Regions from separate parts of the Homo sapiens genome. Here region 2 is linked to region 1. The links come from fine-mapping of genetic effects on gene expression. A gene starts in region 1. The other region holds a variant in brackets. All regions are shown on one strand. Distances are from middle to middle.

Evidence for each region.
Region 2: its variant is fine-mapped to the expression of SCAMP5 in whole blood (INTERVAL, PIP 0.98).

Annotation. Positions count from the first base shown.
Region 1 is chr15:74,992,639-74,998,000 of GRCh38, forward strand. It overlaps SCAMP5 (secretory carrier membrane protein 5), which reads left to right and starts at 2,925. Exons shown (of 7, transcript NM_138967.4): 1 at 2,925-3,035.
Region 2 is chr15:75,210,503-75,215,864 of GRCh38, forward strand. C15orf39 (chromosome 15 open reading frame 39) reads left to right here. Exons shown (of 3, transcript NM_015492.5): 3 at 247-1,667. The coding sequence ends at 614. Among named protein-coding and RNA genes, the nearest start is that of C15orf39, 11 kb to the left of the region's middle. RefSeq lists an enhancer at 4,273-4,332. The variant T/G (reference allele first, on the strand shown) is at 2,544.

The DNA.
Region 1 (5,362 bases):
GTCATGCAGTTTAGCATTTCACTCAGACATTAAAAGTTCAGTAAATACTTCTATTTTTATTCGTTTACTGGCCTGTAACATAAATATTCTCCCAGAGACTCTTGGATGGACATGCCTCATTCAGGCATAGCTAGGCAGGGAAAGATAAGCAGCCTGGAGCTGGCCCTGTGGGACATTGATTGATTGGGTTCCTGTTCCCAGTTACTTGCTCCCTCTGCAATGGGATTAAATGTCCCCACCATTTGTCATGTGACTTATCTGGCATCCTGTATGGGTAGCATACCTCCCTGACCCCCATGAATTAATTTTGGGCTTACCCATGTGACTTGCTTTGAGTAATGGCATATGAGCAGATGTGACATTCTCCACATCTGCAAAGAAGCTTGAAATGTGTTACTGCATGGTTTGGCACAGGCTCTCTCACCCCTGCCCTCCACTACAACAAAGACATGTCTCCAGTGCCTGCCACGCAGTTTGAGCTAGCACCTTTAAATACTTTATTTATTTATTTTTTTGAGAGGAAGTCTTGGTCTGTCGCCTAGGCTGGAGTGCAGTGGCGTCATCTAGGCTCACTGCAACCTCCACCTCCTGGGTTCAAGGGATTCTTGTGCCTCAGCCTCCTGAGTAGCTGGGATTACAGGTGCACACCACCATGGCTGGCTATTTCTGTATTTTTAGCAGAGATGAAGTTTCACCATGTTGGCCAGGCTGGTCTCGAACTCCTGACCTCAAGTGATTCGCCTGCCTTGGCCTCCCAAAGTGCTGGGATTATAGGCGTGACCCACCGTGCCTGGCTTAAATACTTTATTTTTAATTTTTAAAAATTGTTTTATCCATCTATTTACAGATCATTAAATACTTACTGTGTACCAGGCAGTCCCATATGTTACATGTGTCTGCATGTATTAATTCATTTCATCCTTGCAGGAACCCTAAGACACGGGTCCCATTATCACCATCCTTATTTTACATATGTGGAAAACTAAGGTTCAGTGAGGATTAGTACCTTCTCAAATTCACACTGCAGGGAAGGGGCAAGGTCTGCCTTCTAGGTTGATATTCTTAACCACTGCTGTATGCTTCTTCTCATGGTAGGTAACCAGCAAATGCCTATTAAGTAAACGTTTGTTTAAGTGATCATTGTTCCCTTCCATTTACCTGAATAGGAAAGGTACAATCTACTGGGACAAAGGTGGGCTTCTGACTTTGGACCTGCTCACTCTTCCTACGTTAGTTGTTTATCAAATAGGAGACCCTTCTGATTCTTCTGAGTGGAGAAAAATTGTCCGTGGTCATCAGACGGGAACCCCAATATTTCCCTTGTAGGACCTACATGAACCACAAGATATCTCCTATAAATTCCATGTGGTTTCCAGACATCTTCCTTGTGGATCCCAGTGTGGACCTCAGATCTCTCTCCTAAAGGCCTATGTGAACCCCTATATCTTTCCTGAGGCCCACATGGACTCCCAACATTTTCCCTGTAGCAGCCACACTTGATAACTTCGACAGGTTCCCAGTTGTCATCTCATTGGCTGCTCTCCACAGCTCTGTAAATCAGCCTTGGCTTGCATTATAGCAGGGAGAGACAGCATGTGGGTCAACCAGGGACAGGACTGACACAGAACCCAGTTGTCCTGCCCCGAAGCCCAGGACCCTTCCTTCCTGGTTGGCCTGGTGGCAGGATGATGCTTCCTGCTCAGCCCTTCCCAGGCACCGAGGCTCTCTCCCTCCTTTTCCCCTCTGCCACACTAGTTCTTGTCTGCCTTTTTTCACTGCCACCCCCTTTTCATGCCAGCTGTGGGAGTGAGGCCCCACTCCTGGCAGGATGGAGCCAGACAATGGGCCCTTATTCTAGGCAAAGAATCCCTGCAGTGTCTCCCACCCACTGAGGCCCCCTTCCAGGCCTAGGATGGTGTGGGTGGGGGGTGGAGGGTGGGTGTATGGTGTAGGGGAAGGAGCAATTGGCTGGCAGGACAGACAGTGGCCCTGGCCCTGCCTGTAGAGATCCCACGGAGGTTTACTATGTAAACACCAATCACAATAAAATCCTGTCTTCACTCCCAGCCCATCTCTCCAAGTGGGTCTCTCTCAACCCTCCAAAGCTCTGGGTTTTTAAACATTTACCCTTGCCTCTACTCTCTCTTGGTATTCATCTCTGCATATCACTGTCTCTTTCATTCCTTTTTCTGAGTCTCTTTCTTTTTCTAAGCCTCTCCTCTCTCTCTCTCTCTCTCTCTGCTCCTTTGCGTAATTTGTCTCTATTTCTTGCCTCTTTCTTGCTTCATTATGCTCCCTTACCTATCTTATCTTTCCATGTCTTTTTTCTCTCCAGGCCTTGAGCTCTCATCTCAGTCTCTCTCTCCGTGTGTCTCTGTCTCTGTTTGCAGCTCTTCTTTCTCGTCCTCCTATGTCGTCTTTCCGTGGATCTGTGTCCTTGCCTCTCTGAATATCATCTCCGATCTTCCGTCCTCTGTTCTCTCTTTCCCCCTGCGCCTGCAGATCTGAAGGACCTTCCGCAGTCACCACACTCTCCTGCTTTCAGCTCTTTCTCACTCCTTTCTGGCACGTCCCAGAGGCTCCTGGCATAGGTATAGGAGGTTATTCTCCCCAGTTTACAGATATGGAAGCTGAGGCTCTGGCTGCTGGTGCCAGGCTCCCATCTCTGGGTCTCTTCCTTCCACCTACACGCCAGGCTCTTGTCCCTGAGGTGCCCGTCAACCACCTGATCCGGCCGGGGCCCGGGAACTAGCACCTCGGACAGCTCCTGGAAGATGCCGGGGCGGCCGGGTCGTCCTTCTCGCGAGCTCAGGAGGAGCAGCCTTAGGAGCAGAGCGGAAGTCTCGCGAGAGTGACTGCTGCAGGCAGTGGCGGCGCGGGCGCGCGCAGAGACGGCCTCGGGCGCGCGCGCGCGCGCGCGCGCTCCCCGCCCCCAGCCCCGGAGCGGCTCGCGGCCGGCTCCGCGCCGCATCGCTCGGGTGCAGCGCAGCTCAGCGCAGCGCTGCGGCCTTTCGGCAGCCGAACGGCCGCGGCAGGTGAGTCTGGGCATGAAGGCTGGGAGGAGAGCTTTGAAGGGAAGCTGGGCGCGGGGCGAGAGGTGTGGGGGTCGCTGGCTGCAGCTTTGTTCCTCCTACACTTCACCTTTGGATGCAGGAAGAAGGCCGAACTGCTGGAGAGGTGGGAGTGGAGGTGACCTTTACTGTTTGGGGCTGGGGGAGAGCGCTCAGGGCGCACCCAGGCCCCCCGAGCCCCCCAAGCCCCCCCATTCCCATCTGTGGCTCCCGCAGAGGGAACTGGGCCTTTGGGTGACGTCAGACCCTGGATCTGGAGCCTGAGCTTTGGGCCCTCCATCCCCCCCGCCAGCCCCACCTGGCGTTCCCTGGAAACCGGCCTTCTGGAGATGGCGTGCGCAGCCGGGGATGGGGGCGACTGGAAGGGGGTGCCCGTGGCTTCCTTTGGGCCTTTCCTTCCAACTAGCGCCTGCAGGTGGACCCGGGTTGACTTCCCTCACCTCCCTCGGGCGGCCGACCTTTGGATGGCGGACCTCAGCCGCCCCAGGGTTGCGAGGCGACGGGCGCGCTGGCCCAGGCCACCAGGCGGGCTCCATCAGGGCTTTGGGTGGTGAGTTGGGGGCGCCGGATTTGGCTCATTTCAACGCTGGCCGGAGGTCACGAGGATGGAGGTGAGGTGTTTGTGAACCGATCCTTGTCCTCCGCCTCGGGGAGCTCCTGGTCTGTGGGTTGGGGGAACCAAGTAGAGACTCGGACTGAGCATTCACTGTCACAGGCGGCTTAAACAAGTAATGTCCCAGCTTCCCGATGGGGAGATCAGTGAGGGCCTGGCAGACTTTCCCAGGGACACAGAGAGAAAGGGAGGCGACAGCTAGCGAATAGGAGACTTCCAGAGGTGATGGGATTTGGGTGGGAGGAGAGGCAAGAGAGGGCATTCCAGGAGAATGTATGGGCAAAGGCACAGGGATGAAAACGAGCACAGCTGTTGGGGGCTGAGCCTGGGAGCTCAGCCATGTGACTGCCCATGGGGTGGTGGAGTCTGGAGAAATTTGCAACCTGTCCCCTACATGTTCTGCCTCACGGAGCAGGGCTCTGAAAGAGGGAGATGGTTCTTGCAGGGGCATGATTGGCAGAGAGATTTTGTTTGGGGCTACACAGGTCTTGCTAACTTAGGTTTGTTCTGGGCTTGGTGAGCCTTAGGGCAAAGTCTCTAGAGCTGAGAGGGGGCTGTCTCTGGTGAATGGGCCCCTGAAAGAGGGTCTTAGGTTTAGCAAACCCCTTGGAGAGTTAGTGGGGTCCCAGGAGGGGAGTTCTAGAGAGAGACCTTGGGCTCTGTGGCTGTTTCTTTAACCGTTTCCTGAGTGGCCACCTCCAAGCAAGTTCCCCAAGTCACCTCCCCTCTCTGGGCATCTCTTTCTAGCACCTTTCTCTAGAGATGAAATAATAGGACTAAGTAGTGACCTCCCTTGAGGATGCTCCTTGTTCTAGTTTAGAGCATCCCCCCTTTCTTCTCCCTCTTCCTTTTCCTTTCCTCCCCTATCCCTCTGCCTCCCTGTCCCTATCCCCACCCCTTGCCCCCCACAGCATTTCCTTTACAGGCTGCACTTCCTTCCCTGCTGCCAGCCAGGAGTTTCGGAAGGTTTCCTGGAGGAAGTGTGATACAGCAGGTTTGACAGCAGCTTTGGGCTTAATCTGATTGGGGGAGGGCGTTAATTGCCTCCCTCCCACCCATTGGGAAAGTGTCCAAGTCTTAAGCAAGTATATGGATTGACTGTGCTCTGTGCTGGGTCCCTCCTGGAAACTCCATCCAGGAGGGAGTGAGGAGATTATGGGAGAAGACGTGAACACTTAGTGCCCAATGACTGACTCAAAATGTATGCAGCGGGATGCAGAGCAGCGATTTTTGGAAAGGCTTCCCAGAAGGGGTGGGATGTGAGAAGGTAGCAGGACTTAGAGGAGCTGATAGTGCTGCCAATTTAGGGGCACTGGAAGCAGAGGGGGCGGCTAGAGATGATCTCCTGCATGAGGCTGGGAGTGTAGGAGGCAGGTCAACCTGTGAGCAGCCAAAGGTGGTGGGAGGGAGGTTTGTAGCTGACTGGCACAAAGCCTTGAATGCCAGGCAAAGATCTGTAGGAGGCTACTGAATAGTCATCAGTAGGACAGGGACAGCATGGCCAGGAGACTGCTGTTTTCTGAGGATTATTCATAGTTCTGGGATTTCAGGGCAGAAGATGGGGCTAGGAGTGGGATGAGGGGATTGGAGGTAGAGCAGGAGGGGGAAACTTCCATCTTAGCAGGTTGGCTCTGGGCAGCAAAAAGGAATCACCATTTCTGTGCCAGGGATGAGGGGC
Region 2 (5,362 bases), 220 kb after region 1:
CTCTCATCCTTGTACCCAAACAGCCTCTCCTGAGTGGTGCCCTCATCAGATAGAGTTCTGGTGTCACCTGGGGAGAAGCACATCTTTTTTGCTTGGATGGTCTGGCCAGTGGGCATGTGTGGGGAAGAGTTGTGATGCCAGCCTGACTTGGGGCAGAGCAGAAGCACTGTTTGGATGGCTTTGGAAGCCAGGAGGTGGGACCTGAGGGTATGGGGTCTGCAGGCTGACTATGTGTTCGTTTTCCAGGTGACTTTGACACTGAGGCTGGAGCTGTGTCCTCCTCAGAGCCCACTGTGGCCAGAGGTGAGCCAGAGAGCCTAGCCCTGGCTCAGAAGTCACCGGCCCCCAAGGTCAGGAAGCCAGGCAGGAAGCCACCAACCCCTGGCCCGGAGAAAGCAGAGGCAGCTGCTGGGGAAGAGTCCTGTGGTGCCTCCCCTACCCCTGCTACCAGTGCCAGCCCACCTGGCCCCACACTGAAGGCCCGCTTCCGCAGTCTGCTGGAGACCGCCTGGCTCAATGGCCTGGCTCTGCCCACCTGGGGCCACAAGTCCTCAAGACCAGACCAGCCCTCACCCTGCCCACAGCTGCTGGACAGCCAGAGCCATCACCTGTAGCACTGGTTGCCAGTGCTGTGTGTATAGCAGTCACTCTCCACCCTTCCCTTCTGCCTGCCCAGCTGCCCCGGGGCCACGAGTGGATGCTGGGGCTGTGGCTGCTCCCCTGGAGGGGTTCCATCTCTGACCCTGTGGCCCATTCAGGGTGGGCTGAAGAGCCCCTGAGCTTTTAACGTGAGGGTCTTTATTGGATAGGACTACTCCCTATTTCTTGCCTAGAGAACACACATGGGCTTTGGAGCCCGACAGACCTGGGCTTGAATCCCGGCTCGTGTTCTTGCTGCAGGACCTGGGCAAGAAACTTCACCTCTGCTGAGCCCTCATTCCCCATGTGTAAAATGGGACAACGCAACCTACCTCACAGGGTTGTTGTGGGGATGCTGCCTGATACATACCCTGTCACCATTTGGTCTCTGCTTCCTCTCTGGGACAGGGCCTAGAATTGGAGGCAGAGAACCTTCCTATAGAAAGTCTTCGTGTGTCCTAGGACTTGGCTATCGTAGAGTGGTACCTTAGGCAGTGGATGTGACTCACACTTTCAGGAGTCACCCCCCAGCATTTGGGGTTGGGTTGGCCCTACTCCAGCCTGGAGCTCCCTGAGGGAGCCTGCACTCCCTGCTCCCAATCCCCGCTACTGGTGCAGGGATGCAGCCTGGAGCTGGCGTCCTTGTTCTGGGCCTGCTGCTGCCGCCACCCCAGGAGGCCCCAGGCCTGTCCTGAATTGACATCAGTGCTTCCCTGAACTGCCTCCCCCACCCCTGGCATTATCCCAGGAAACTTATGTTTTCTAGAAGCTAAGCAGCTGCTGGGACTCAGGGACTGGTGCAGGTAGGCTGAGTGGCAGCTCAGTCCTAGAAGGTCTCTGAAGATCTGGACTGAGGACCCTGCTGCTCCCCAAGCCAGAGCCCATCAGCCAGGCCTGCTGTGAGCCACCTGCCTGTGGAGTGCTGAGCTCAACCAAAGGCTGGCAAGCTCTGGGCCTCATTTAAGGGATTCTGATGAGCCGATGGGCCCTGGAGGCAGCCCATTAAAGCATCTGGCTCGTTTTTGGAAGTGGGGCCTGTCCGTGTGTTTGGGGATGGTCGGTTTCATGTTCCGTCACTGTGTGCTTAGCCCTTTGCTCGCAGGCTGCTCTCCCTGCTCCCAGTCCAGAAGGTGCTTCTGCACCCTCGTGCAGATGGCTGTGGCTCTGTGGACCCCTCTCACACACATACTTGCTTGCTCTGGGAAAGCCCTCTCTCCTGAGACCCCGTGGGTCCTCGTGGTTGTTGGTCTGTGGGCTACTGCCTGGTGAGAAATGCTGGTCATTAGACCCAGCACGTGCCTCTCTCCCAGGGCCAGACATGTCTTTCATGGTCTGGGTAGAACTGTTACAGCCTCCCCATTGCTGGTGACCATGCATCCCACTGACCTTAGCTTGGAGGGTGGGGGGTAGTGTGCTGGGCCCACCCTCTGGAGACCCTGCCCCTGCTGGGCTCTGTTCCCCCAGAGGCTTGTTCTCAGGGCAGCTAAGGTGGCTTCCTGGGCCTGTCTTCCCACTCCCCCTGGGCCAGGGGCCAGTCCACTGGGGCTTGTTGGACCTGTGTGGCATCCTGGTGGTGGTCACTGAGCCCAGCTGCACTGTCCCTCCTGTGCCAGCCTGGCCTTAACACTAGGCTGGGATTTGGAGTGGCAGCTGCCATTGTCCCCTTCCATTGTTCATATAGGCCCAAGAAGAGCTACTGGGCTGTGAAGGGATAGGTAACCACAACACATTGTGGCTGCTGCAGTGACAACCAGGGTGGAGGGTCCTTGGGTCCCAGAAGAGGTGATACCTGAATTGGACCTTGAAGACAAATACAAAATCACATGCAAAGTGGGGTCTGGGTAGAGAGAGCCGCACGTGCAGAGTCTTGGTGAGTCTGGAACAGGAAAATCCCCAGGCGAGGC[T/G]GGAGCTCCCAGAACCAGAAGGGGCAGGAGCAGGGCTTGGAAGCCTGGCTAGAAATCCAGCAACCCAGGGACTCAGTCCCACAACCTGAAGAATGGGGATGTGAGCCACGTGGAATCATTTGACACTACTACAGGGAGGAAAGAATTGCAGTGGAGGTGGAGTTTCTGAACTCTGGGCCCCCCGGGCCCTGGGCAGCCATGGGCACCTCGTCAGCCCCATCAGTCACATCCATCTCATCGTCAGCACCTTAATGGAGTGAGCGCTTTATTCCTTTTCCTTCGGTCCTCCCTTCCCGCCGTCCTCTCCTCTCCCTCCCTCCCTTCACACCTGTGCCCCTGCTGTATGCCTGACACACATCTTACCAATGGTGACCAGGCAGAGTGAGGGCTCAGAACAGGTAGGGCTTCGCACCTGGGTTCCTCTGTGGCCCCAGAGGACTCAGAATGGTGCAGAGGCCAGGCTGGGGTGGTGGAGAGCCAGGCCTGGCTGGGGTGGTGGAGAGCCAGGCCTGGCTGGAGTGAGGTGCTGCTCTGCGACGACAGCTCTATGCAGGGAGGCCCTCTCTTCCCCTGCACCAGTCTGAGGGAAGAGACTTAACCCGGACTTGGGAGTTCTAGTCTAAGGAAGGAGATATGACAGTGTCCCAGGGACCCCCAGTCTGAGGTGGTGGGGGCAGGAACCAGACTCTGCCCAGGACTCCTAGTCTGAGGGAAGCAGCGCCCTACCTAGGGCTGCCACCCCTAGGGCAAGGAAGGAGTGAGGGCAGTGGAGTGTGCTGGCCCCGCCCCCACCCCCAAGGAGACCCGAGCAGGTCCACCTAAGAATGGGGCTCAGGTGAGACCCAGCCTCACCATGCCCCACCTGGCACCCTAGCCCAATACAAAAGGCAAAGGGCCTGGGCGGCCGGCTTTGCTGACAGGAGTGGAGCTAGCAAGGTAGTGAGTGGGAAGGATGACAGCCCTGTCTTGGGGGACTCGGAGAGTAGGAGCTGGGAAGGGGAGAGGGGCTCCCCGGACAGAGTCGTCTCATAGGGAACAGCACCTCCAGCCAGGCTCAGCACTACACCACCCCAACCTGGCCTTGGCAGGGACCCTGGTGCTGAGCCCTGCTTGTCCTGAGGCCTCATTCTGCCCTGTCGCTGCTGGCAACGCCCATGTCTGGGGTGTTGTGAAGACCCCAAAGCCCCTTCGTGACTCCAGACGCCTCTTTCCCTCTGTCATTCCTGGCCTCATTGATGTTCCTCTTCCCGTGAGTTTGTTCTCACTAAGGGGGTTGAGTCGAGCCAGCTGAGTCTTCCCTCAAACCTCCTTTGGGGATCCTCGGAGCAGGACCCGACTCTGACCTGACTGGCTGTGACTCTTCTCATCCTGCAGTTCCTGTGCCGGAGAAGGGAGGGCCGAACCCCGAGCCCAGCCTGCTGCCCCAGCTGGTGGTGGGAGGCGGGCCATGGGGACGCTTCAGCCCGTGGACATGGCCTTGCTGCTGGCTATATGCTGTGCTCTCTCCATGGGCAGCTCCCCAAGACCCCACCTCCAGACACCCCCTCAGTGGGGAGCACCCAGTGCAGCTCTTCTGGAGCCCTGTCTGCCCAGGAGATGGGAATGGGGGAATGCTGCCAAGCCCCTCCTGTCTCTCCTGCTGCACATGGACCCCTTTTCCAGGGTGGCGGGAAGCTGGGGGCCTCCTTGAGGACGCTGCTGCCTCCATGGGGACTCCAACTCTGGATGTTCTAGCTATGGCCCACTCAGAGGTGCCTGTGTCGATGAGCCCTCCACCCCTCCTGCCACAGCCCCTAGCCTCAGCCTGCCTGGCCACTGTTCCTCCCACACCCTGCCTTTGTCCAAGAGGGGCCCAGCTTCCAGGTCCCTGTGATTTCTTAGGACAATTGGAACCCAGGGTCCTAGGAAGGGGTGCTGAGCCCCTTGGAAGGACCTCAAGGGGCCTCTTCTATGATTTCTGGGTTTGTCAGGGGATCCCTTGCTTCTTCAAGAGCCTCTGATAAGGCATCTGCAGACCCTTTTCCTCCTCAGATTTGGATGATGGGACCAGGGCAGGCCCCTCCTGTATCCCCTAGCTCCTCTCCATATAATTCAGAACTTGGGGTCCCAAGCTTGGCTGCACCTCCTCAAACCCTGTAAACCTCTTAGACCCAATCCCACTACACCCTCAGAGGGGCTGGGGCTTCAGCTTGGGCCCTACTACACAGAAAGCTAGTGCTTCTCTGCCTCCTGCTGAGGCCTTGATGACTCCTCAGTGAGGCCTGGGCTCCCAGCTGCCTTAAGTAGGCAAGAGACCCTGGAGACAGCCGCTACTCAAGGAGGCCTGGGTTCTCCAACAGACCTGGGGAGCCCGCCTGCCTTTCCACAAGGCTTGGTACCTCCCTTGGGCTAGATCTGGGGTATCCCTGTCCATCCTTTGCTGCCACCCTTCTGCTTGCCACTTCCTGGCCCCGCGGACATACCAGGACCCTAGCTTCCAGAGGCCAGGTCTTCCCCAGCCCCACCCTGCCATCTGCTGCCACCCTGGCATCTCTAAGCCCAGCAGGCCACAAGAGTCCCTAGCTACTAAAAGACTGGTCCCCACCAGATCTGCCCAGTGCTTCCCCAGAGGCCAGTGAGCATGCCCAGCCCCCAGCCCTTGGTAGCCCAGCCCCTTCTGGGTGTTGCCAGCTTGGAGCTTTCTTCTAGACCTGTGGATGCTATCCTATCTGGAGTTAGCTTAGACCTCTCCCCTGGCCTCCTGGGCACTTCTGGCCCTAATCCCCTGGCAGCCTGTTTTCCAGCATTCCTGGGACTGGTGGGGAGGCCTCTGCCAGCTC